Homo sapiens: one gene and its partners. The protein of the gene in region 2 purifies or fractionates together with the protein of the main gene of each other region. This does not show direct contact. Each region holds a gene or a part of one and is shown on either strand. Other genes may lie near its edges. The genes, in order: PTPRK, EVA1B, SLC25A51 and DDR1.

What was found.
Region 1: the proteins of EVA1B (region 2) and PTPRK purify together in Homo sapiens (co-immunoprecipitation; 2 studies listed by BioGRID and IntAct, with this or other methods). This does not show direct contact.
Region 3: the proteins of EVA1B (region 2) and SLC25A51 purify together in Homo sapiens (co-immunoprecipitation; 2 studies listed by BioGRID and IntAct, with this or other methods). This does not show direct contact.
Region 4: the proteins of EVA1B (region 2) and DDR1 purify together in Homo sapiens (co-immunoprecipitation; 2 studies listed by BioGRID and IntAct, with this or other methods). This does not show direct contact.

What each region holds. Positions count from the first base shown.
Region 1 is NC_000006.12:127,978,575-127,985,604, reverse strand, and holds part of PTPRK (receptor-type tyrosine-protein phosphatase kappa isoform b precursor), read left to right. Parts: intron 1-2,227; coding exon 2,228-2,363; intron 2,364-2,624; coding exon 2,625-2,774; intron 2,775-4,315; coding exon 4,316-4,489; intron 4,490-7,030. UniProt on the Homo sapiens protein: Regulation of processes involving cell contact and adhesion such as growth control, tumor invasion, and metastasis. Negative regulator of EGFR signaling pathway. Forms complexes with beta-catenin and gamma-catenin/plakoglobin.
Region 2 is NC_000001.11:36,321,530-36,327,849, reverse strand, and holds EVA1B (protein eva-1 homolog B), read left to right. Parts: upstream 1-4,204; 5' UTR 4,205-4,391; exon of another isoform or gene 4,392-4,782; 5' UTR 4,783-4,812; coding exon 4,813-4,879; exon of another isoform or gene 4,880-5,124; coding exon 5,125-5,555; 3' UTR 5,556-5,820; downstream 5,821-6,320. Other genes in the region: SH3D21 (SH3 domain-containing protein 21), read right to left, coding at 1-130, 6,072-6,126.
Region 3 is NC_000009.12:37,894,113-37,901,142, forward strand, and holds part of SLC25A51 (mitochondrial nicotinamide adenine dinucleotide transporter SLC25A51), read right to left. Parts: intron 5,839-7,030; 5' UTR 5,717-5,838; intron 1-5,716. UniProt on the Homo sapiens protein: Mitochondrial membrane carrier protein that mediates the import of NAD(+) into mitochondria. Mitochondrial NAD(+) is required for glycolysis and mitochondrial respiration.
Region 4 is NC_000006.12:30,894,497-30,900,664, reverse strand, and holds the end of DDR1 (epithelial discoidin domain-containing receptor 1 isoform 2 precursor), read right to left. Parts: intron 6,160-6,168; coding exon 5,994-6,159; intron 5,262-5,993; coding exon 5,151-5,261; intron 4,045-5,150; coding exon 3,800-4,044; intron 3,652-3,799; coding exon 3,524-3,651; intron 3,305-3,523; coding exon of another isoform or gene 3,287-3,304; coding exon 3,068-3,286; intron 2,593-3,067; coding exon 2,358-2,592; intron 1,778-2,357; coding exon 1,628-1,777; intron 1,510-1,627; coding exon 1,369-1,509; 3' UTR 509-1,368; downstream 1-508. UniProt on the Homo sapiens protein: Tyrosine kinase that functions as a cell surface receptor for fibrillar collagen and regulates cell attachment to the extracellular matrix, remodeling of the extracellular matrix, cell migration, differentiation, survival and cell proliferation.

The DNA of each region.
Region 1 (7,030 bases), on a different chromosome or scaffold from region 2:
TTATAGATAAAGTAAAACAGCAATAAAATAAAAGTTGGCTGTAAGTAGTCTATAAAACAGGAACTTAAGAAATACATACATTCATCCTAATGCGTGTAGTGTTATCCACAATTTAAAGTATAGAAACTCTGCCTTTTAATGGCAACATCTGTGTTTTTTGTTTTTATCACTTTTGCAAATCCCATATTGTATAGAATGCTAGGTTGAAATAGACATTTCTTGCCAATCTAGAAAATTCCCAATAGAATTCCAGCTTTAAAACTAAATTTCAGACATACAGAGTTACTAAATGGCCTAAATTGCAAGGATTTGTGCTGCAAAACAGCTATTTAAAAATTTTTTTTAAAGAATTCACATTAGAGGACCTTGAAAACTGCATCAGTGAGATTCAGCAAATATATGCCAAAAAACACGAGCATTATATCCAGACTTTCTTCTGATTAGAAACTTCTCTTAAAACAAGCATTTAGAGATACTAAAAGCAAATTACATGGCCTCATTTTGAGGTGTGACCAGAAAAATAAGTACTGAATCTGAAAAGCGTTTCCTAAATGATGCTGCACACCATTCTCATACGCTCTTCCCTCCAAGCTACATAATAGGTTGTACCTAAGCATTTTTTGCTTTCTGAAAATCCAACCTATTCAGGATTTAAATAACCATGTATAAAAGAGGGGAAAAAAAGCAGAGAATGAAGTAAAGGTAAAACGTCCCATAGGATCAGATACTATGTACCCTGAAAACAAAAAAAACTTCCTTTCAATCCTCCTCATGAAATCTGATGTACTCTTAAATTACATTCCTGTCTCCAACTCTGGGAACAGTGATTGAGAAGATGGTAGGGGACAAAGATAAATAGAGATAGCCACAATATCTTTTGCTTAAATTTCTAAAAGAACAGTGAGTTTAAGAGAAGTGACCAAATCTGAATAACAAGGAAATAATGTTACTAGCCTATCTAAGCACTTAGAAAATGAGATAAATAGGTTTTCAACTTAAGAATTTCTTGATTTATCAGAGAGGTTTACTTTCTTATGAATTGCTTGCTTCAGAAATGCTCCAAGATTCTCAGATACTCTCTTGAAACAGAAGTGTCATTTTCCACCTACACTGAAGCATCTCTGGACTACAAAGTGAATTCCCCACTCCCCGCAAAAAATCCTTATTTTGTTTTCCCCATTGACTTCTATATATAAAATTGGAGAAACATTCCCCAGCTGCAAAATAATCACAGTATATTACAATTAAAGGACACAAAATATGGTGAGATAGAGGAATACATTTTAGTGTTCTGTACCACTGTAGGATGAGTCTGGTAAATGATAATGTTTAGTTTGAGAGAGCTAGAAGGAAGATACTGAATGTTCACAACATAAATGATACATGTTTGAGAGGACGCATATGCCAATCACCCTTTTCTGATCACTCTACATTATGTGTATTAAAATATCACTATGTACCCAAGAATATATACATTATTATTTGCCAATTAAAGACTAAAATATAATTTTTTAAAAGTATTTTTAAAAATTAACTTTAGAATTAAATACAGTAAGATAGCGGCTAGCCTTTTGATTTGCTGGGAATCATATTCTACACCTAATAATTCATTTTCATTTCTCTTCAGATCATGATTCAAATAGTCTTTACACTGTTACTCTCCTCCCCTTTGATAACCGTCATTCTCTTGCCCACCCCCACCATTTGCATTTCCTGTGAAGCGTGGCTCCTCAGATTTCCCGTTTAAAGTTTTGGGAATTAATTTTCTTTTGCCTTGGTATTTACAAGAGGTGAAGACAGTGAGTGAGCCAACATTCTCACATTGTTGCCAGAGGACACACAACTAGATGAATCTAAAAATATTCAATCTTGAGTTAAATTTTGAAGCGTGAATCTGCCACTTGATCAATTCTATGAACTTGAAATTATGTGTATTAAATTTACATAAAATGAAAATTGTGAGAGAGGTGTGGAACTTAAACAGTGTTATTTTCAATTTGAAAATAATTTAGAACTCTTGTTCCAATCTTTAGTTTATACCAAAGCAGATACTCTGCATGAAGCTATTTGTACATTAATAAGCTTTTACACAGCAGGGACAAGTGCTGTGCCTTGCAGTTTGTTAAATCAATTTGATTCTACCTATCTGACAGTGGAAAAAGTCCTTATTTAAGGTTATGAAGACTAACATGCTTCTTACAATTCATTAAATTTAATTGTTTTTCAGTGCTGGTGCTGGACGAACTGGCTGCTACATTGTGATTGACATCATGCTAGACATGGCTGAAAGAGAGGGTGTTGTTGATATTTACAATTGTGTCAAAGCCTTAAGATCTCGGCGTATTAATATGGTCCAGACAGAGGTATGTAGATTTACCTGTAGTGGACTTTTTTTTATTTTTTATTTTTTTTGCAAACAAAGAGTAGATGTCTCTCATATATACTCTACTCAACCGAAAGAGATGTTTTTCATGTGTAATCAATATTAGCTGAGTCATATAGAAAAATATTGGTGTTTTAATTCATATTTCCATATAGAGAAAATTTTCTGTATTTCCTAACTTTGATGACAGAAAAGTGATACTAAAACTAGTACAAAATTTTCTTTTTCATTCTTTTGGTAGGAACAGTACATTTTTATTCATGATGCCATTTTAGAAGCCTGCTTATGTGGAGAAACTGCCATACCTGTCTGTGAATTTAAAGCTGCATATTTTGATATGATTAGAATAGACTCCCAGACTAACTCTTCACATCTCAAGGATGAATTTCAGGTATTAACTATTTCTAAAACCTCTTTTGTGACTTACTACAATTTGTTCTGGGCGCTAGGAATCCTTTCAAGGAAGGTCTTTCAAGTCAAATTTATAACCTTTGATCCTGTTTTAAATACAATACGTATCTCTTTCATTATACATATTATATAGTCACTTTTCTATTGATGAATTTATATCTACTATATCCAAAATGACAAATAAGTTCAGACTTAGGGAAGAGCAAAGGGGAAAGGTATCATAAAAGTCAAAAATTAGGCCAGGCGCAGTGGCTCATGCCTGCAATCCCAGCACTTTGGGAGGCCGAGGCGGGTGGATCACGAGGTCAGGAGATCGAGACCATCCTGGCTAACACGGTGAAACCCCGTCTCTACTAAAAAGACAAAAAAAATTAGCCAGGCATGGTGGCGGGTGCCTGTAGTCCCAGCTACTCGGGAGGCTGAGGCAGGAGAATGGCGTGAACCTGGCAGGCGGAGCTTGCAGTGAGCCGAGATTGCACCACTGCACTCCAGCATGGGCAACAGAGCGAGACTCCGTCTCAGAAAAAAAAAAGAAATAATAACAAGTCAAAATGAGTGGTGATTTGTGTGTATTTAGTGTGTATTTATAGCCTTTTTTTCATGCAGTCATACAGATTTTGACCTGGGTCACTCACAATGTGATGAGATCAAGCACATTAATTATAACTGAGTCTGGGTTCAGTGGCAGCTCACACCTATAATCCTAGCACTTTGGGATGCCAAGGCAGGCAGATCTTGAGGTCAGCAGTTCAAGACCAGCCTGGCCAACATGGCAAAACCTCATCTCTACAAAAAATATAAAAAATAGCCGGGTGTGGTGGTGCATGCCTGTAGTCCCAGCTACTCAGGAGGTTGAGATGGGAGGATTGCTTGACCCTGGAAGTTTGCTTAACCCTGGAAGGCTGTGGTGAGCCAAGATATTGCCACTGCACTCCAACCTGGGCAACAGAGTAAGACCCTGTCTCAAAAATAATAATAGTAATAATAATAATAAATGAAGTTTGTAGTACATGTTATTTCAAAATAGCCCTAAATGTTTTCACTGCCCTTAAAACACCCCTGAAGGTGGGTGAAAATAAAATCAAGGGCAGAGACCAAATTCTTTGATTGTTGATCCAGTGCTCTTTCCAACATGCCATAGCTTATCTTCAAATATGGCAAGCCCAGATGTTACTACAAATGATACCGTTTCCCAGTGTGATGAAGGGTCATTATCATAATGGACTGCCCGATTGCATTTTCTTTGGTTAAGGCAATGCATTTTGCAGGTAGCAGTGTTGTTTAGCGTACCTTTTCCTTTTAAGAAGAGGAGCCCTGAACAATGTGTGTCTTGTTTCTTTGTCACTTCTCAGGCTTCATTAGCTTTAACTACAAGGTCTATCAGCCTGTCATAGTAGCAAATGCCATTGCCTCGCACAAATCCTTCACTTTCTACTTGGCCTTCTAAATTCCTGATGGATCTGTGTTATACTGTTAAATGGGTCACACTGTCTTTTAACCTGGGTTCTCTTTTCTTTTTAGACTCTGAATTCAGTCACCCCTCGACTACAAGCTGAAGACTGCAGTATAGCGTGCCTGCCAAGGAACCATGACAAGAACCGTTTCATGGACATGCTGCCACCTGACAGATGTCTGCCTTTTTTAATTACAATTGATGGGGAGAGCAGTAACTACATCAATGCTGCTCTTATGGACGTAAGAGACTGCCCTCTTTGTTAGTGTAGAGTGTTGTGGAAAGCTACATAATGCAACTGAACACTGGCTAGTTTTCTTTTCGAGGAAATTAAAATAACCTAAAAAGGAAAAGTGGAAACTTTTATTGAAACACATTTTTTTGGAAAATGATTTTAGGTTTTCCCTATAGAGATTCTTAAGAACTGTCATTTTTATAGCTTTATTGTAGATTTGGAGCTTGATTGTCAATTATTATATTCATGTAGTAAATATTGCAAGTTATAAATTTCATCTTAATTATTTTCAGAAAAGAAAATCATGCCTTATCTATTTTGAATATAATTAGAAATGAATTTTTTAAATCACAGAATGCCAAATCCTACAAAAATCATGTTAATTTGGGAAATTTTTATTTCTGACATTTAATGTTTCAATAATTTACAATTAATTTGTTGGCCATTAATCAATAAGGACTATTATAAGTAACTAGAGAGGGGATGGATGGTATTATGTTAACACATCCATCATAATGAAAGAACAATCTTGCCCCATTCTAAAATCTTAAATTGCAGGGTGTTATATAGCCCATAGACAGAACAATATGGAAAGAAAGTTTTCTGTTTTAGTTTTTGGTTTTTTTTTTTTTAGACAGAGTCTCACTCTGTCGCCCAGGCTGGAGTGCAGTGGCATGATCTCAGCTCACTGCAACCTCCGCCTCCCAGGTTCAAGCAATTCTCCTGCCTCAGACTCTTGAGTAACTTGGAATACAGGAGCGTGCTCTACCACACCCCGCTTATTTTGTTTGTTTGTTGTTGTTTTTGTTTTTGAGACAGAGTTTCGCTCTTGTTGCCCAGGCTGGAGTGCAATGGCACAATCTCGGCTCACTGCAACCTCTGCTTCCCAGGTTCAAGCGATTCTCCTGCCTTTGCCTCCCAAGTAGCTGGGACTACAGGCATGCACCACCATGCACGGCTAATTTTTTGTATTTAGTAGAGATGGGGTTTCACCATGTTGGTCAGATTGGTATTGAACTCCTGACCTCAGGTGATCCACCTGCCTCGGCCCCCCAAAGTACTGGGATTACAGGCGTAAGCCACCGTGCCGGGCCTTTTTTGTATTTTTAGTAGAGATGAGATTTCACCACATTGGCCAGGCTGGTCTCAAACTCCTGACCTCATGATCCGCCCACCTTGGCCTCCCAAGGAAAGAAAGTTTTAAATTATGACTTTGGCCACTTTACTTTGATTATGTTGGAAAGAAGCAAGAAAGCTATCATGGTTTATAATCTTTTTAAACAGTTTACTGCCTTCATTTCTAGCTTTTGCCCTTTCTCCTATGAAACCATATCAAGGAGAAATTAGAAGCCACGGTTCATTTCTTTCTGACTATAACAGGCTTTCTAAGTTATTGTTCCTGTTAAGCCCACATTCTGTTTCTACGAGTAGTCTTCACCAGTTACTTTACTCTTTTTGGTGCTGCAAAGCGGAATAGTCTAAAGGCAGGCTCTCGTCCTTGCTGTGGTCACTCTTGCCTGTGAAAAGCTCTCATCCTTGCTGTGATCGGAGTCTTGCCTGGCCATTAATCACATCCACTGAAATCACATTAAATCCTAATTATACCTTTTCTTTTTATATTAGGTGTCTGGAAAGGCAAATATACTAAATAGAGAGATGGCATACAATACTTTTTCATTTCTGCATCTAAATATGGAATAAAAAAAGGATGTGTGAACAAGAAAAGGAGAAAATAATAATATTTAGAAAAGCATTGATGCCTTTGAATTTTTTGCCATTGGCATCTTTGTCAAATTTTTCTCAATGTCCAGATTGTCTCCTTTTCTTTTCTTTTTTCTTTTTCTTTTTGAGACAAGCTCTCACTCTGTAGCACAGGCTGGAGTGTCGTGCATGATCACAGATGACTGCAGCCTCAATCTCCTGGGCTCAAGTGGTCCTCCCACCTCAGCCTACCAAGTAGCTAGAACTAAGGTGTATGCCATCATGCCCAGCTAATTTTTTTTTTATTATTTTTTGTAAAGATGGGGTCTTGCTTTCTTGTCCAAGCTTGTCTTTTTTTCTGTATGAAAGTTGAAGCTTGTAATCCACCTGCTCTTACTGTCTGCTTAATCCCCTGTGATTCAAAAAAAAGACATTTCATAGTTAAAGCTGTTCTGGGGATTTAGTAGTGCAAATGAACCGTTGGAGAAGTAAAGCTGGTTTGATTTACAAGAACAGGGTTTATTGTTCACTTCTTTCTCCCTACCCTTTATCCCCATCATTAGTACCCTTTTGCCAGGTCTATGAGGGATTAGGAGCTAGGGCCAAGAATTCTGTAATTTCAAAGCCTTACATATGTTCCTGCATTTAGAGGGAAAAAGAATAGGAAGTCTTCAGTCTTCTCCTCTCTTATCAGCTCCTCCTCATGCATATCCCCTCCCCTGTGGCTCAAAAAATGAGTAGATAGCCGTCAGTCTGCTTTGACTTACCTTTGCATGGAGCAGACATTTGATTGGAAGAAGAGCTTCCTTTCTTCTAACTTTTCTCATTGTATTAGTTCATTCTCACA
Region 2 (6,320 bases):
ATGGGGACAGCCACATTGGCCAAAGGTTTCAGGGACCTTCCCCAGGGCCTCCAGGAGCAGTGCTTCTCAAAACCCTCCAGGGCAAGGCTGCCGCTTCTCCCACCTGGCCTGGCTTGGCCACGGCAAGCCCCTGGAGAAGACAGCACTCTGGTTAATGTGCGTCCCTCTCTCTGAAGCAACCAGCAACCATCATCTCAACCCTCATCCTGCTCCACTAGGGCTGAGTCATACCTGACCCACTCCAAACACATATGTCACATACCAACCCAGACACAAACATACTTTTGCCTGCAGGCAGAGATACAGAGAGCTGCGTAGCACAGAGGTGCATGGAAACAGCTTGACAGAAACAGATCCAAAATTTTAGACTGCACATAGAGGAGCACACATGTGGACTCTCACAGACACAGGTCTGTGCCACATGAACTGAGGCACTGAGGCACACAACACACGTAGTCATACAAGCACACTGTAGCACACACCGATATTCCCGTGGATGGCAGGCATTAAACATGCTCATGCACTCCCAGCAATGCTGCACATAAATAAGCTACCTGTGCAAACAGTCACTGACATACACCCCTTGAAGAAACAGGAATACAACCCACAGAAACTCAATATTGCTGATGGTCTTCAAATCTCGGCCAAGGCAGTGGGCAAATTCTGGCCTCATCTTCACCTCTCAGCCCAATCACACATGGCTGATCACATCCCTGTTCTGGCCTGGTTCTCCTTGCTGACTTCACCTCCAGGAGACCCCTCAATGGGCTCGAGCTTCAGACCCTTCTCTCTCTGCCCCCTTACCCCAGATGTTCGGTCTCATCCACTTCTGGGGTGGTAAATCCATCTTATGTGGTAAGGACTCTCAAATATCATTTTCAGCCAGATTCCTGGGGGTTCTACTTGCATTGCCAACACCTGCACCTGGATATCTAATGGACATTTCAAGTCTAACCTATCTACAGTGAAACTGACTACCCCCAAACCTGCTTCCCCACATGGGCTTTCCTCAGGTGCCCCAGCCCAGTATGAAAGTGTTCTAAACTCCTCTCTCCCTCACATTCAAGTCCAGTGCAGGAACTCCCTTCAGAACACCACCTGAGTCTGAGCCCTCTCGCCTCTCCACCGGCCCCGCCCTCACTGGCTTGGACAGCTGCCAGCCTACTCACCACCCTCCCTGCTCCCCTTCTTGCCCACAGTGGCCCACCCTACACTGAGCCACCACAGGGATCTTTCCAAAATGTGTCACAGGGCCATGACACTCCCCTGCTCAACGCTCCAGGAGCTCCCCACCACACTTACATTAAAAACCAAGCTCCTGGCCGGGCACGGTGGCTCACACCTGTAATTCCAGCACTTTGGAGGCCAAGGTGGGCAGATCACCTGAGGTCAGAAGTTCGAGACCAGCCTGACCAACATGGAGAAACCCCATCTCTACTAAAAATACAAAATTAGCAGGGTGTGGTTGTGCATGCCTGTAATCCCAGCTACTCGGGAGGCTGAGGCAGGAGAATCACTCGAATCCGGGAGACAGAGGTTGCAGTGAGCAGAGATCGCGCCTTTGTACTCCAGCCTGGGCAACAAGAGTGAAACTCCGTCTCAAAAAAAAAAAAAAGAAAGAAAGAAAGAAAAAGCTCATCAACAAGGCCATCGAGTCCCTGCACGGGCAGCCCCTGCCACTCTCCCCTGCACCCACACACCATCTGCGTGGCTTTCTTCCCTTGGAGGGAGGTATCCCAAGCATGTTCTTACTCCTGCCCAGACACTCTCCCCAGATCCTGGCACAGCTGCCTCCTCCTTAGGATTCAGGTCTCACTGTGGATGTCCCTGTGAGAGCCACTCCCAGGTGTTGTCCATCGCATTACCCTATCCTGTCATGCCCCCCAGCACTTAGAAGCATCTGAGATTATCTTCTATTGTTTCTCCAATTTAGTGTCAGCTCCATGAGGGCAAGGATTTGTGTCTGTTCTGTTTATTGTTAAATCCCCATTAAAACTATTCCTCAGGGCTGGGCGCGGTGGCTCACGCCCGTAATCCCTGCACTTTGGGAGGTCAAGGCAGGTGGATCACGAGGTCAGCAGATCGAGACCATCCTGGCTAACATGGTGAAACCCGGTCTCTACTAAAAATACAAAAAATTAGCCAGGCGTGGTGGCAGGCGCCTGTAGTCCCAGCTACTTGGGAAGCTGAGGCAGGAGAATGGCATGAACCTGGGAGGCAGAGCTTGCAGTGAGCCGAGATCGCGCCACTGCACTCCAGCCTGGGTGACAGAGCGAGACTCCGTCTCAAAAACAAAAACAAACAACAAAAAAAAAACTGTCCCTCAGTATTCTCAGGGGATTGGCTCCATGACCTCCCTCCCATAGACACCAAAATCCAAGGATCCTCAAGTCCTTGATGTAAAATAAATTGGTTCAGTATTTGCATTTAACCTATACACATCCTCCTGTATACTTTAAATCATCTCTTGATTACTTATAATATCTAATATAATGTAACCGCTATGAAAATACACTATTGGCCGGCATGATGGCTCACACTTGTAATCCCAGCACTTTGGGAGGCTGAGGTGGGTGGATCACTTGAGCCCAGGAGTTCAAGACCAGCCTGGGCAACATGGCAAAACCCCATCTCTACAAAAATTAGCCAGGCATGGTGGTGCACGCCTGTGGTCCCTCCCAGCTACTTGGGAGAATGAGATGGGAGGCTCACTTGAGCCCAGGAGGTAAAGGTTGTGAATGAGCTGAGATAGCACCTCTGTACTCCAGCCTGGGTGACAGAGTGAGACCCTGTCTCAAAGAAAAAAAATTAAATATATCTATTGTTTAGGAAATAATGATAAGAAAAAAAGTCTGTACATGTTCAGCACAGATGCAATTTTGGTTTTGAATATTTTTGATGCAAAGTTGGTTAAACCCACAGATGCTGTGGACTAGACTAGGAAGTGCTAGGCATACACAGTATTTGTTGACTAGTGGCTGCACAGATTTATATACAGACATACCCGCCCCCACAACAATACTCAAATACATCACATTAATAGACAAATATACAGATGTGGGCAAAAATACCTGCCCGCACATTCACAGAACACACTAAACAGTCACAAAGACACCCAGGAGTCCCTTTTCCATCCCCATAGGAGTCAGTCCTAGTCCTCCCCCATCTAGATCTGCCCTCTACTTGAACCCAGTCTCGGGACTGGGGGAGTAGGGGTCTGCAGCCCGGACAGGGAGAGGGTCGCTGGCCCACAGGCCTCAGGCAGCGCCTTCAGCTATGTCTGCAATTTCCTCTCCCCCTTTCCTCCTCCTCTCTAAGGCTCCCGCCAAGGCGGCCTCCCCCTCATTCTAGCTCCAGCAAGGGAGGGGAGGTCCATGATGGGGGGGCCCCGTGGAGACAGGGCAGAAGGAAGCCCCCCGCCACACACACTGATCACACACCACATTGCATGCACAAGCCCAGGTGGGAAATGCGTGTGTGAGCACAGGCAGGTTTAGCCTTGGGGTGGGGGACGGGATGGGGTGGGATCTGCCACAAGCCGCCACAAGCTGCTTGGTGCACAAGAGCGCAGGAGCTCGCAGGCACAGAGGCCCCACGCTGGGGTCTGCGAGACTGCTGGCCGGGCCCTGGCTCAAAGCTGGAGTCCAACAATCATTAACCCTGCGTGACTAGACCAGAGCTCGGCCAGGGGACACATTCAAGCCTGGGCCCTGGAAGGAGGGGTGGACAGTCCCCTCCCTTCCAGTCCAGCATGGGTCTGGGGAAGAGAAGCAGCTTTGCCTGGAAGGGGCCTCCTAGGAGGGGGAGCGGTGGTTTCTAGCTCAGGCTTTAGGATCAGAGAGCAGCAGATTCAAATCCTGACGGTTTTGGTAAAGTCAATTCAATCTCTCCAAGACTCCGTTTATTTGATCTGCGAAGTGGGGATAATGGTATCACGTCGCAGGGTTGTCAGGCGGAGTAAGTGAAAGAACCTGTCCAAGGTTTAGCCCTTGGCCCGCACGCAGGCAGAGCTCCAGCCTCTCTGTTGTTGCTGTTAGTGGCCTGGGGGCGGGTCCCTGCCGCGGCCTCCCCGGCGGTTTCCTGTGGGGGACGGACGGCCCGCGGGCCGGGCTCTCCCTCCTCCCGGCTGCCCGCTCCTCTCCCCTTCCTCTCCCAGCCCTTTTCCTCCCCGCCTCCCCGCCCGCCCCGCCCCGCCCCGTCCCTCCTCTTTCCTCGGAGGAAACTTTCCGCCGGCTGGTCCCTCGGTCCGTGTCCCGCCCGTGCTGCCGCGGCCTGGGAGCCCAGCGGGGCCGGAGGGGCGGCGGGACCCGAGCGGGCGGGGGCGGCCGGACCCAGTGTATGCGGCCGCGGGACGCGCTGGGGCCGGGCAGCCGGGAAGCGGGGCGCTGACGGTGAGTGGGCCTGGCCCCGGGCCGGTGGGTCCCCGCGGGGCGGCCGGGCGAGGAGAGAGGCAGCTTCCCTTCCCGGAGCCCGCCTGGGGCGTGGAGGCTCAGCGTCCCTATCCTCCATCCCGCCCCGGGACGGCGGAACCGGGCCTCAGCTGGGGACCTCACCAGGGGGCGGGGCCTCCCGCGGTCCCCGGCGCTGCTCCCAGGACTGGAGGGGCGTCCGCGCCCGGGAGAGGGGTTCCCCCCGACAGGGCCCCGGGCCGCCACGAAGTTAGGGAAGCGCTCTCTCCAGGGTGGAACCTGGGCCCGCGGCTCCCGGGAGAGGAGCTGCCCGCGGAAGGGGTCGGGGTGGGCTCCAGGCTGGGAGAAGGATCTGACTTTGCTGACCTCGCAGGCTGGTAGGGGAGCTGCCCCCCAGAGCAGCATGGATGCCCCGCGAAGGGACATGGAGTTGCTCAGCAACAGCCTGGCTGCCTACGCGCACATCCGCGGTGAGGGCGGGCGCCGGAAGACTGGGGGCCTGAACCCTTCCCTGACCACCATCCCCTTCCCTCCCCAGCGCCTTGTCCGTCCCCTCCGCCCCGCTCCCCGCCCTCTTGCCCGCTGGCGGTTCCCTAATGCCCTTCGAGTAGGGGTTACAGGCCTCGCCCCCACACCTAGAACCTGGGGTCTTTCGGAAGTGGGACAACCCCCACCCGTCCGGGCCTCTCCGTGACCCCCGCCCTGTGCCCCGCAGCCAACCCCGAGAGCTTCGGCCTCTACTTCGTGCTGGGCGTCTGCTTCGGCCTGCTGCTCACCCTCTGCCTGCTCGTCATCAGCATCTCGTGGGCGCCCCGCCCGCGGCCCCGGGGCCCGGCTCAGCGCCGGGACCCCCGCAGCAGCACCCTGGAGCCCGAGGACGACGACGAGGACGAGGAGGACACGGTGACTCGGCTGGGCCCCGACGACACGCTGCCGGGCCCCGAGCTGTCCGCAGAGCCGGACGGGCCCCTCAACGTCAACGTCTTCACGTCGGCGGAGGAGCTGGAGCGGGCGCAGCGGCTGGAGGAGCGCGAACGGATCCTGCGGGAGATCTGGCGCACCGGGCAGCCGGACCTGCTGGGCACAGGCACGCTGGGGCCCAGCCCCACGGCCACGGGCACCCTGGGCCGCATGCACTATTACTGATGGGCCCCGGCTCCCGCTGCAAGGCGCTCGGGGTACCGGACCTGCACATGAGCTCAGAGCTACCCCACACCTTCGGACTGCCTCGGCCCCCACAGCTCCCAGGTGCTACTGGGCGTGGACCGCCACCCCCTGAGAGGCTCCCTTCCCCAGTCCTGCCAGAAGACCCCGGGGGCGGGGAGGGGGCAGCATGCAGGGTCCCCACTCCCTCTCTGGGGTCGATGAAGAGGTGAAGTGACCAAATGAAAGAAAGCTGCATTCTCAGTGACTCAGTCTCTCCCTCTGTTACTCCTGCCCCCAGCGACCCCCAGGCTCCTGCCACGCAGGGGCCCCAGGACTGAGGCCCAGCTTGACTCCCTTACCCTAGCTGCACCACCCCCACCCACCAACCCGACGATACAGCACACCTGCCCGCATTCACTTCACAGCCAGCAGAAAAGCAGAAGCCCACAGGCCTGCACCCAGCCTCACACACAGAGCAAGCGCGCGCGCATTCCTTATTCAAAACGCATTCCTTACCGGCAAACGCCTGGACACACGTCGCCCTGTCCCCACAGTGCCCTGGGTTCATACACTGCAATGACACACACACCAGGCCTCAGGACCCTGACCTCGAGGCTAAGGTGCTGCTAGCCCCGGTGTAAGCATGCGTGCTTGGGCTGGACGGTGGACTTCACGTCTGCGCCGAGGTGCGTTCAAGCGAGAGGGCAGGAGTCCCTCTGAGCGGACAGGGAGGCCAGCTGGGAGGGGTCCGAGCTGGCGAGAAGG
Region 3 (7,030 bases), on a different chromosome or scaffold from region 2:
CTGCACTGTATACAATTTATTCTACCTCCTATTTATGGTTGCTGTTTTTTTTTATGGTTTTGTATTATTAAGGTTTGGAAAACTCTGTGGACAATTCAGCTTGCCAAGTGTGTGAGTGGGTATACAAAAGATATACATTTTTAATTCCAAGACCTTCCAGAGAGTGTCTAGAGGAAAGGTCTAATTAAACCTGCCCCCACTCACCTTTTTTTTTAACTTTTTTTTTTTTTTTGAGGCAGAGTCTTGCTTTGTTGCCCAGGCTGGAATGCAGTGGTGCGATCTCGGCTCACTGCAACCTCCACCTCCTGGGTTCAACTGATTCTCCTGCCTCAGCCTCCCGAGTAGCTGGGATTACAGGTGCCCGCCACCATGCCTGGCTAATTTTTCTATTTTTGTAGAGATGGGTTATCAACTTGTTGGCCAGGCTGGTCTTGAACTCCTGGGCTCAAGTGATCTGTCCGCCTTGGCCTCCCAAAGTGCAGGGATTACAGGTATGAGCCACTGGCCTGGCCTTTTACAAAAAATTTTAAGTTCTGAGGTACGTGTGCAGGTTTGTTATGTAAACTTGTGCCATGGGGTTTGTTGTACAGATTATTTCGCCACCCAGGTATTAAGCCTAGTACCCATTAGTTATCTTTCCTGATCCTCTCCCTCCTCCCACCCTCCACCCTCCTATGGGCCCCAGTGTGTGTTGTTCCTCTCTATGTGTCCATGAGTTCACATCATTTAGCTTCCACTTGTAAGTGAGAACATGTGGTATTTGGTTTTCTGTTCCTGAGTTAGTATGCTAAGAATAATGGCTTCCAGCTCCATCCATGTTCCAGCAAAGGGCACAATCTTGCTCTTTTTATGCCTGCATAGTATTCCATGGTGTATGTGTACCACGTCTTCTTTATCCCGTGTACTACTGATGGGCATTTAGGTTGATTCCATGTCTTTGCTACTGTGAATAGTGCTGCAGTGAACATGGCTGTGCATGTGTCCTTATAGTAGAACTATTCCTTTGGGTATTGTTTTTTTCTATTTCGCCTTTAAACAATGCAGCAATGGGCAACCTTGTACTTATACCATGTGAATTGTTTTGCCATTAAAAACTTTTTTTTTTTTGAGACAAGGTCTCATTCTGTTGCCCAGGCTACGATGCAGTGGCACAGTCATGGTTTACTGTAACCTCGAACTCCTAGGTTCAAATGACCCTCCTGCCTCAGCCTCCTGAGTAGCTGGAACTACAGGTATCCACCACCACATTCGGCTTTTTTTTTTTTTTTGTAGAGAAGGGGTCTTGTTATGTTAGCCAGGCTGGTCTCCAACCCCTAGCCTCAAGCGATCCTAATGCCTCAGCTTCCCAAAGTGCTGGGATTGTAAGGAGTGAGCCACCTTGCCTGCCATTTAAAATTTTTGAATATGATTCCCCATCTTTCATTTCTATTGACCACTTCTTTACTATACATTTTCATATATGTTGCCCATTTTTCTGCTGGCACTTTGGTTGTCTTACTGATTTGTAAAGTATCTTTTAGATATGAAGCAAATGAATCTATTTTAGTCAAATTGTGGCAAATAATTTTTCCATGTCTATATCATTTTTATACACTGAAGTTCTTAATTTGAATATTAAATATATCTCAACTTCTAGATTTCATGTTCTCCTAAGGTCTTCATTACTCCAAAATTATTAACAAGTAATCCAGGCTTCCTTCCACAACTTTTTTTTTTTTTTTGAGAGAGTCTCACTCTATCATCTAGGATAGAGCGCAGAGGCATGATCTCGGCTCACTGCAACCTCTGCCTTCCTGGTTCAAGTGATTCTCCTGCCTCAGCCTCCCAAGTAGCTGGGATGATAGGTGTGTGCTGCCATGCCCTGCTAATTTTTATATTTTTAGTAAAGACAAGGTTTTGCCACATTGGCCAGGCTGGTCTCAAACTCCTGGCCTCAAGTGACCTGCCTGCCTCGGCTTCCCAAAGTGCTCGGATTACAGGCCCTTCCATAATTTTTATGGTGAATTATCACGTATACTGTAATATCTCTGGAATATCAGTTTAAGAAGTGAGGCAAAGATAACAGACTGCCAACATCACTGATGACTGAACTTTGTTTCCATCAGTTGCAGCATAATCTAAATACCCACGGGCGTTTGCGTTTATTTCTGCACTCCATTCTTTTCCACAAAGAGCCTGGTATTTCTTCTCTAGTACTAACCTGTTTTAACCTATTGCAGCATCAAAATATAGTTCATCATCTAGTAGGGCTTCCCCCTCCAAAGATAATTATTACAGTTTTTCTAGCCCTCTCACTTTTCTCAGGTAAACTTCGGTGTACTCTTCCCCAAAATCCTGTTGGTGTTTTATGGTGGAAGATGTATCCACAGAATGAGGCATATATATTTAAAATAGGCTGGGTGGCCGGGCACAGTGGCTCACGCCGGTAGTCCCAGTATTTTGGGAGGCCGAGGTGGGTGGATCACTTGAAGTCAGGAGTTCGAGACCAGTCTGGCCAACATGGCGAAACTCCATCTCCACTAAAAATACAAAAATTAGCCAGGCGTGGTGGTGTGCACCTGTTGTCCCACCTACTCTGAAGGCTGAGGCAGGAGAATCACTTGAACCCAGGAGGCGGAGGTTGCAGTGAGCCGAGATTGCACCACTGCACTCCAGCCTGGGTGACAAGTGCGAAGCTCTGTCTCAATAAATAAATATTTAAGGTTCAGAACGGTATTAACTTTGAATTTTTAGTGGTATTTAGATGGAAAGAGTGAAAATTAAAGAGCATATGTATGTCCGGTACCTATGTCAGGGGAGATAAGACGTGCAAATTAATTAGACTATAGGGAGATAAGTGCAATCATAGAAGGTATCAAGGCCCCGTACAGCAGGAGGTCATTAACTAGCTGTCCAGAGGGAATGACAGACAGGACATGACAAGTCTATCTTAATTTTAAATACTGATCATCTTTTCAAAATTGAATCTTAACTTTACAAGAACTTGGTATCTTCCTATTTACTTATAACTTTTTGCAAACCTTAAAGCATTAAAATTTTCTTCACATAGATATTATTTCTTACATCTATGTATTTCACCTTTTTGGTTACTATTATATTTTAAATTTTTAAATTTTTTTTCTTTTTGAGATGGGGTTTCACTATGTTGCCCAGCCTGGTCTTCAACTTCTGGGCTCAAGTGATCCTCCTGCCTCAGCCTCCCAAAGTGCTGAGATTACAGACATGAGCCACTTTGCCCTGCCTGATTATTATTATTCATAGGCTATTTACTTCCATCAGTTTTCTAACTAGTTTTCGTTTGCATAAGAAAACAACTAACAATTCTTGGGTATTAAGGTTAGAACCAGCTAACTTACTGAATTCTTACTATGTCTCAGTTTTTTGGTGAACGTTTTAGTTTCCACCATGTAAAAGATCACTTGCAAAAAATTTTGCCTTCTCTTTTATAATATGTGTAATTCTTTCTTCTTATTGAACTGATAAATACTTCCTGAACAAAATTAAATTATAATAAAGGATTATAATAAATTATAATTATAATCCCTATATATAATTACATATATATATAATTATAGTTCTTATATTTTTCTTGACACCTGTGGGAACTCTCCTAGGGATTATCATTAAGTTGGCTTTCGGTTTTAAACAGGAAGTTCTTGTCATCTGAGTGTTCATAATCCAGGTCCTAGCAGTTTTCAAGTTTACACAGGGAAACAAATCATCAAGACACAGAAACGTTCACTGATCAGCTGAGTCATATATGATTTATTCCACTCAAGTATCCCTCCTCCCTATTTATCATCTACCCCTGCCCATCTGTAGGACTCTACTGTAAACATGAAGTGCAGGAGGCCTTCCTTCTGCTATCACATAATTTCATCTCACAAATCATGCCAAAAACCCCAAGACTTCAATCTATATTCATTCTAAGAATTAGTGGAGCTGCAATTATAACTTAAGCTCCTGCCCCCAACTATTAACTATGAAATTGTGCTTCCCATTAAAAATGGATTCCAGGCCAGGAGCAGTAGTTTACACCTGTAATCCCAGCACTCTGGGAGGCCGAAGCAGGCAGATCACTTGAGGTCAGAAGTTCAAGACCAACCTGGCCAACATGGCAAAACCCTATCTGTACTAAAAATACAAAAATTAGCCGGGGGTGGCCGGGTGCGGTGGCTCACGCCTGTAATCCCAGCACTTTGGGAGGCTGAGACGGGTGGATCACCTGAGGTCAGGAGTTCAAGACCAGCCTGACCAACATGGAGAAATCCTGTCTCTACTAAAAATACAAAATTAGCCAGGCGTGGTGGCGCATGCCTGTAATCCTAGCTATTCGGGAGGCTGAGGCAGGAGAATTGCTTGAACCTCGGAGGCGGAGGTTGCAGTGAGTTGAGATTATGCCATTGCACTCCAGCCTGGGCAACAAGAGTGAAACTCCATCTCAAAAAAAAAAAAAATTAGCCGGGCATGGTGGCATGCACCTGTCATCTCAGCTACTTGGGAGGCTGAGGCAGGAGAATTGCCGGAACCCAGGAGGCAAGGTTGCAGTGAGCCAAGATTGTACCACTGCACTGCAGCCTGGGCGACACAGCAAGACTCTGTCTCAAAAATAAATAAATAAATAAAATAAAAATGAATTTCATTTTTCTAGTCAACTGATAAGTCAAACTGAGAGAATTTTCAAACATGGGAAGGAAATATACATTTATTATTGTTGTACTGAAGTTCAATCACCTCCACACCTTCCCACCGCCAATAACTCAAGAGTCTATCTTAAACTTTGGTCAAATGCTTTTAGAAAGCTCCTGAGATGATCATACAAACACTGGAGACAGCCAGTGTAATATTTAAGAGTACAGCCTCTGGAACCTACTAATTACCTACTTAAATCCTAGCTCCACCACACATGTACTGTGTGACCTTTGACAAGTCACTCTATAGCTTATTCTCTTTATAAAACGTGGCTATTAACTACCTCATAGACTAGCTCAATTAACTGAGCTAACAACATGTAAAGTGCCCAGGACAGCAGTCTAGTGTACAGTAGGAACTCAACAAGGGCAAGCTATTTTATTATTCTTTTCTATCTTTTCTGACTTATTCATTTGGTGTATTATGTTAGCATATTTCTTGGTGATTACTCACTCTTGCAATATGTGGATAAATGCTACTTGGCCGTGGTGAAATATTCTTTCATCATACTGCTAACTTCCATTTACTAATATTTTAAAATTTCATATTACTGTTCATAACAGATCATGTTGTCATTTTTTTTTTCTTCTTTTACAAGACAGGGTCTCACTCTGTCACCCAGGCTGGAGTGCAGTGGTACAATCATGGCTCACTGCAGCCTCAAGCTCCTAGACTTAAGCAATTCTCCCAGCTGGGACCACACACGTGCGCCACCATGCCTGGCTAATTTTTCACTTTTTTGTAGAGACAGGGTCACTCTGTGTTGCCCAGGCTGGTCTGAAGCTCCTTGGCTCAAGCAATCCTCCTGCCTCAGCCTCCCAAAGTGTTGGGATTATGGGCATAAGCCTTGGCACTCAGATAAGTTTTCAGTTTTAATACTATCTTCACATCAAGTGCCAGTGTCAATGTTCCACTGGCTTTGTAAAAAGAATATGTGATTCCCCGCCCCCCCACCCCCATCATACTGTAGAACAATTTAAATCTTATCAAAATGATGTGTTCCTTGAAGTTTAATTGCATTCACCTGTGACATCTGAGCCTGGAGTTTGGCAGGATGATAGCTTTGTGATAATGTTCCCAATTTCTTCCATTGTTATTGTTCTGTTAGGTTCTCTCTTCTTGAGTCAATTTTGATAACTGGATTTCCTTAAAAAAAAAAAAATTCTGGTTTAATTTATATAGCCTTTTTTTTTTTTTTTTTTTTTTTTTTTTTTGTAGAGACAGGGTCTCACTATGTTGTCAACGGTGGTCTCAAACTCCTGGGCTCAAGTGTTCCTCCCACCCTGGCCTCCCAAAGTGTTGGGATGACAGGCATGAGCCACTGCTCCCAGCCTATTTTTATTTTTAAAGACAGGATCTTGGCCAGGTGTGGTGGCTCACGCCTGTAATCCCATCACTTTGGGAGGCCAAGGCAGGCGAATCATGAATGAGGTCAGGAAATCGAGACCATCCTGGCTAACACGGTGAAACCCCATCTCTACGAAAAATCCAAAATTTAGCCAGGCATCGTGGCACGCACCTGTAGTCCCAGCTACCTGGGAGGCTGAGGCAGGAGAATTGCTTGAACCCGGGAGGCAGAGGTTGCAGTAAACCAAGATCACAGCACTGCACTCCAGCCTGGGCGACACAGCAAGACTCTATCCAGAAAAAAAAAAAAAAATGACAGGGTCTTGTTCTGTCACCCAGACTGGAGTACGGTGGTACGATCATGGCTCACTGCAGCCTGGACCCCTGGGGCCTCAGTCTCCTGAGTAGCTAGGACCACAGGCGCATGCCACCATGCTTGGCTAACTTTTAAAAAACATTTTTTTAGCAGAGAGGGGGCCTTGCTATGTTGCCCAGGCTGGTCTTGAACTCCTGCCTTGGCCTCCCAAAGTGCTGGGATTTACAAGCCACTGCACCCATCCAACACTTGCTGTTTTAAAAAATTACTTCTAACCTGTGTACTTATGTTCCCTTTTTTCTTGAGCAGGGTTATCAGTTTATCTAATTTATAACCTTACCACTCCTAGCAAAGCAGCAGCTTGTGAATTACCAATCTTACTATTTCTCAGTTTTGTTTTGTTTTTTTGAGACAGAGTTTTGCTCTGTCACCTGGGCTGAATGCAGTGGCTACCTCGCAGTTCACTGCACTTACTGCAGCCTTGACCTCCTGGGCTCAAGCAATCCTTCCACCTCAGCCATCTGAGTACCTGGGACCACAGGCCCGCACCACCAAGCCCAGCTAATTTTTGTATGTTTTGTAGAGACAGGGTTTCTCTACGTTGCCCAGGCTGGTCTCAAACTCCTTGGGCTCACATCATCTGCCAGCCTTGGCCTCCCAAAGGGGACTACAGGC
Region 4 (6,168 bases), on a different chromosome or scaffold from region 2:
ACCCTGCTAATTTTTGTATCTTTAGTAGAGATGGGGTTTTGCTATGTTGGCCAGGTTGGTCTCGAACTCCTGGCCTCAAGTGATCTACCCACCTCAGCCTCCCAAAGTGCTGGGATTACAGGGGTGAGCCACTATGCCTGGTCCATTTTATAGGTTTTAAAACCTAATTCTGAGGAGGACTCAGTAGACCTCTACAGACTGCCAAAGGCGTTTATGGCACAAAAAAGGTTCAGCACCCCTGGCCTGACTGCATTCCTTCCAGGCCTCCACCAGAGCACCCCTCTGAGTTGAGAAGGTTCATGCACTCAGACATTCATGCATCTCCTGAGGTCCCACAGGCAAAGGCCTGGATTATCCAGAAACAGAACACAATGCTGGGCAAAACAGGTGATGGGAAATGGAATGAGGAGGCAGGAAAAAAGGAAGATGGGAAGTGGGTTGGGAAGTGGGTTCAGAGGGAGGTGCAGGAGGCAGAGTTACCAAATTCCCAAGGAACCCACTCACACAGTTGTGGAAAACTCAACCTTTATTATTACCTGCCTAGTGCAGGGGATTAAAATTGCCTCAAGCTAGGTCCATATATTAGTGTAAAAATCTGTGTCTCTCCCCCCAAAAATGTACAAACCCCAAGTGATTATAGAAAAATCAATGTGGCAGCTACACTAGAGATGTCCAACCCCAAGGCTATGGGCCGTTGCTCCCTCTTTCCCCCCAATCCCAATATTTACTCCACAGAAACGTATAGGCTTAGAGAAGTTCTAGCTACAAGACTGCAAGTGGGAAGTGGGGGTGACTGAGGGCTGGGGCGGGGCTACCCCCAGGTCCAGTGTTTCAGGTGATGGAGGAGGAAGAAGCCCAAGCTGAGGACAAGTACAGGAGCAGGCACAAGGAAACATTTTCCTCTCCTTCTTGTCCTCCTCACCCCCAGATTCTCAGCCAGTGGGGTCCAGTGTGTGACAGGGAGAGAGAAGCTGGGGGCGCAGCCACCTCTCCAGGAATCAGTGTTGTCCAGTGGGGCCCAGGTGCTCCAATGGGCCATGTCCAGTGTCTATCCTATATTTCTCCCCACCCTTCCCCAAGGGATGGCTAGAGGAGGGTGGAGAGGATCCCATCCACAGGACCAGCTGGGTGGGCGACAGGGGCTTCTAGGAAGGAAGAACAGGAAGGGGACATGAGAGTGTGTCCAGGAAGGGGAGAAGGGGCATCAGCTCCCTGGGTGGGCCCAGCCCACCTGCAGTCTCACTGCCTCTATTAGAGGTGATGGGCTGTCGGGAGGGGAAGGGCAGAGGTGCCATTGTGTCCTCTTGTTTTAGTGTCACTGGCTTCCCCTGGATCGCTCCCTGAGGGAGGGGCAGCTGGATGTGTGATTCACACCGTGTTGAGTGCATCCTCTGCCAGGAACCGATGCAGCTGGGAAAAGGGTGGTCGCTGCTCAGACTCCCGGCTCCAGCACCGAAGCATCAGCTCATATAGGCCCTGCGGGCAGGCAGGCGGCCGGGACAGGTACACCTGCATTGTGGCAGTGTGGATGAGAGTCAGGGAACAAATATTCTTTAGTCTCCAAGATGACAACTCTGCCCCTTCTGTCCCCCGCCTCGGACCCATCTTCCCTCTCCTCCACTCTGACCTGCCGGCCCTGGTCCCGGAAGAACTCCCCCGCGTTCTCGATGACCTGCTCGTCGGTGAGCTGCCCAAAGGGCTGGGCCCTACAGAGCATCAGCACCTCCCACAGGGTCACACCAAAGGCCCACACGTCACTCGCAGTCGTGAACTTCCCCTGGGATGCAGAGAAGGCAGCAAAAACAGACAGGGACATCAGGCAACGTAGACCCTCCTCCCTTCCTATTGGAAGCCCCAGATCCACTCTGGGCTCCACTCAGGCCTGATCCCTCCTGACGCCAGGCTCTCCACTCTCCTCCGCTGGCCACCTTTTCCAACTCCTCTCCCTTGGGCTCTGCCTTTCCTCTCCATGCTCTGGTCCTCTCTCCAGGGCCCTGGCCCACCTCTTCCTTCTGCTCCTCCTTCCTCTCCATCCACCCCCACTTTCTGGTCCTGACCTTCGGTCTCCCTACCCAACCCCTTCTATCTCCAGCTTCCTCGCCCAACCTCATCTCTTGAGCTCTCTGCCACCCTGTCTCCATCCCCAGTACCCACTCTTGGCTCCTGGATTCTTGCCCATCACACTGCAGCTCCTGCTTTCCCCAGTCCCTTGGGCTAGGAGAACCTCATATTATAGATGAGATTCTGTAAAATGCAACCCAGAGAAAGTGTGTGACTGATGGAGACCAGGGCTGTGAGTGGCGGCCAGTGTTCTCCCACCTGCCCTGCTCCAACCTGGCTGTCCTCGGGCTGCTCACCATGAGGATGCACTCCCAGGCCATCCAGCGGATGGGCAGCACTGCCCGGCCCTGCACACGGTAATAGTCCCCAGCATAGAGGTTCCGGCTCATGCCAAAGTCTGCGATTTTGATGGTGAAATTTTCCCCAACTAGGCAGTTCCGCGTGGCCAGGTCCCGATGTACAAAGTTGAGTGTGGCCAGATAGCGCATGCCGGAGGCGATCTGGGCTGCCACATGCAGCAGCATTGGGTAGCTGAGAAGGGAACCGACAGAAGGTCACTGGGGGCAGCTTCGCAGATTCCCATCCAGGAGAGGAGAGAGAGCCCACTCCCCGGGCCCGGTCACTCTGGCTCCCCATGTGGAGGTGGAATGCCCACGTGAGGCCAAGGGTCACTTCCCTCTCAATCTCCCAGGCCTGGCCAACACTAGGGGGCTCTTCTTTTATTGTGCTCCCCAATCTGGACTCAGAGGGGAGTGAGGGTGAGAGAAAGCAGAAGGGACGTCATGGCAGGGCCCAAGTCCCTTCACCACTCTTGCATAGTCACCTCCAGCCTTTCTGTCCATGTTCCTGGGTTAACTTGTCACACATTCCTTATCCCAGGCCCTCCTGGAACCTCTCTCCCTTCCCACCCCCACGCTCCCCTCTTTTCCTCCAGGCTGAAGCGAGGGGAGAGGAGGAGATCCCCTGGGGGAATTCTGAGCAAGGCCCAGCCTGGGTAAGCAGGTACCTGATGGTGGGCCCCTGCGCAGCCTGCCCGTCCCCAGGGGCCCCCTCGGCTGCCTTGTCCTCCAGCTGGTGGGCACTGAGGAACTGGTTGAGGTCGCCGTTCTCCATGTAGTCAGTAATCATGCAGAGGGGGTCGTCCTGCACACACACGCCCAGCAGCCGAATGATGTTTGGGTCCTTGAGCCTCGACATGATCTTCACCTCTTTCAGGAAATCATTCCTGGAGAACAAGGAGAAGCTGAAGAGGAATGCCGAGTGGGCGGCCTGCACCTTCCCCCGCGCCCCCACCCCCCTGCCCCACCTCAGGCAGACCAGGCGTCCCCACCCCCAGCGTACATGTAAATCCCCTCCCAGAGATGCCACCCCTCTGTTGGGCTCTGCCATTGTTCTCTCTAGATGGCTCCCCACTCTTCACGGCCTCCCCTCCCTTCTTCCAGATGCCATCCCTGGTCCTCACCTGGCATTCTTGGTGGCATCTGGCCGTAAGATCTTGACAGCTACCAGCAAAGGGTGTCCCTTACGCACATTAAGGGGGAAATCAAGACTAACCAGATCTTGAGGGCTGTCGACCTCACACAGGTGCACCTGGAGAAAGAAGTTCGTTTGCTAGGCGGTCACAGGGTCAAACGGATTAACACGGTTACAAATGACTAAGGTTCCTGGCTAGGGGGATGCGCAGGCATGGCATCAGAGCACACAATAGGGCCAGACACTGGGTAGGCACCCTCCTTACCTCCCCAAACTGGCCCTCGCCAAGCTTCTCCTTGAAGCGGAGTCGAGATCGAGGGAAATCCACTCTGGGGGGCCCATCCCCGACTGCCCCTGGGGGCAGTGCAGGCACAGCATAGGTGTTGCCCCCGGTGACGCCCTGCAGGGTAACAATGTCAGCCTCGGCATAATGGGGGACGCTGTTCTGGGGAGGTGGGGGCAGAAGCGGGGCGCCTGGCTTCTCAGGCTCCATATAGTCCCCACTGTAGGCTGCAGGGGTGAGGGGAAAGAAGACAGGACGAGGCATCAGGAACAGCCCAAGAGCTATAGTTCCCCACACCTCAGCCTCCCGGAGGGCCCTGTGTCTCCCGGTTGAGTGAGAGACTGGGTCTATGCTGTATCTTCCCAGTATTCCATGCGCCAACCTCAAACCAGGAAGACACTGGCATGGGACGAGAGTTAGCTATTCCAGAGCTTTTCAAGGCAATGAATATGGTTGAGCAAAACTGTCATAAAGTCTTACTCTTTTAGGGCCTCCCTAGGGTCTCTCAAGAGACTGTGAGATAAATCTTGGCTGGAAGAAGAATTCCTCCCCAGGAATTCTCCCGCCTCAGGATGGTCCCAGCATCCAGGCACCCTCCACCTTCCAAACCCTTGTCCCGTTCACCACAGCTCCCTCCCCTTCACTTAGCTGCTCTCCCGTGGCTTTCAGCCTGGCTCCCCCTGGGGCCAAGCCCTCCCAACCCTTTCAACCCAACACACCAAGCTCAACAACAAGCAGAGACAGAGGCACACAGAGAGGAGGGAGGGTAACAGCTGCTCACAGCCCCAACACAAGTTGTCTACAGACAGGAGAGGAAGCAGAGCTGTCCCCTCTTAGCCCTGGGGAAGGGGCCACAATGAGAAGGCAACACTGAGGAGAAGAGGGGCAGATGGAAAGGGTTGGGGCATGAGCCTTCACCTCTGGGACTGCAGAGAGAGGACACATGTGAGGGAAAGGGCAAGCGCCCGGGGTGAGAGCCCTCCTCCTCGCAGCTCTAGAGAGAGTGGAGAATAAAGGAGGAGTTACTATAGTCTGGGGCCACCACAGCAACCTCCTGTCTAGCTCTGGAGAGCTGAAGAGATGGCGTGGAAGAGGAGGAGGGAGAAGAGCTGGGGACCAGTAAGCTTTCTACTCCTCAGCTCAAGGGGGGGACCTTAAAAAAGAGCAAGCAGCAGCAGAGATGAGCTAAGGGCACAAGAGCTTCCTCCTTGGGAGCTCAGGAGAGCAGAATAGGCCACAGTGGGGAGAGGAGGAAGTGCAAGGTGTGAGGGCTTTTCCCTGCCCCAGTAGAGGTATGGGGAGCCTGGCGGAGCCCAGGGGCAGAGGGGCTTACCCTGGGTGTTGGTGGGTTTGGCCCAGGCGGGTGTGGGGGGGCCCGGGCCTCGAGGGGGACGGGCGTAAGTGGCCAGAAGGAGGCGGTAGGCTGGATTGGAGAGCAGCAACGCTGTCGGGAGAAGGAGGAGGGGAAACACGGGGAAGGGATGAGACTCAAGGCTAGACAGACAGGGAGACCTTGAATAGGGCAAGACCAGGGCTGATGGGATGATTGCATTAAGAGACAGACAGGATAAAACAAGGATCTGCAGAGTGACGGACGGCTGGCTGGATAATGAATGCATGGACAGATGGGACGTATGAATAGATGGATGGATGGTAAACAGATGTTTTGTTGGATGGATGGATAACAGATGGAAAGATGGATGTGTGAATATAGATGGATAGATGGATGATGGATATGGGTGGGTGGATGGATGGATGAATAGATTTATGAATATAGATAGAAAGACAGATGATGGAAGATTGATGGATGGATGCAAGGATGTATGACTATGGATGGAAGGATGGGTGATGGAGGATAGATGAAGGAACAAACATGGTGAGTCTAATACAAAGCAAAGGGGCCAGGGAGACACAATGAGAGGGTACAACAAAGATAGAGAGATGTCTGTGGGACACAGACAAGATAGCACCACGGGGGACTATGGGTAATACATGGGGAACTCTTGAGAGAGACTACATGGTAGGGACAAAGAGTGATATAGACAGTAACCAGGGGCACAGAAAGAAGAAAACAAGTGGAAACTGGGGAAGACAGGAAAAAAAGAGAATGGGAAAGGGATACAATAAGAAAACAGCAGAGAGGACAGAGGTGCGACTGGAACAAGGCAGGTCTTACCAGAGCCATTGGGGACACAGGGAGCGGAGTGGGGCGGATTCCCACGAGGCCGGGGCTCCTGGTACGGGGGTGGCTCTCTAGGACCTGGGCGGTTGTTGATGAGGATAGTGTCCCCAGGGACAGAGAGGTGAACCGTCAGCTCCTCTTCCAACACCCTCCGTTCAGCCTTGTCATA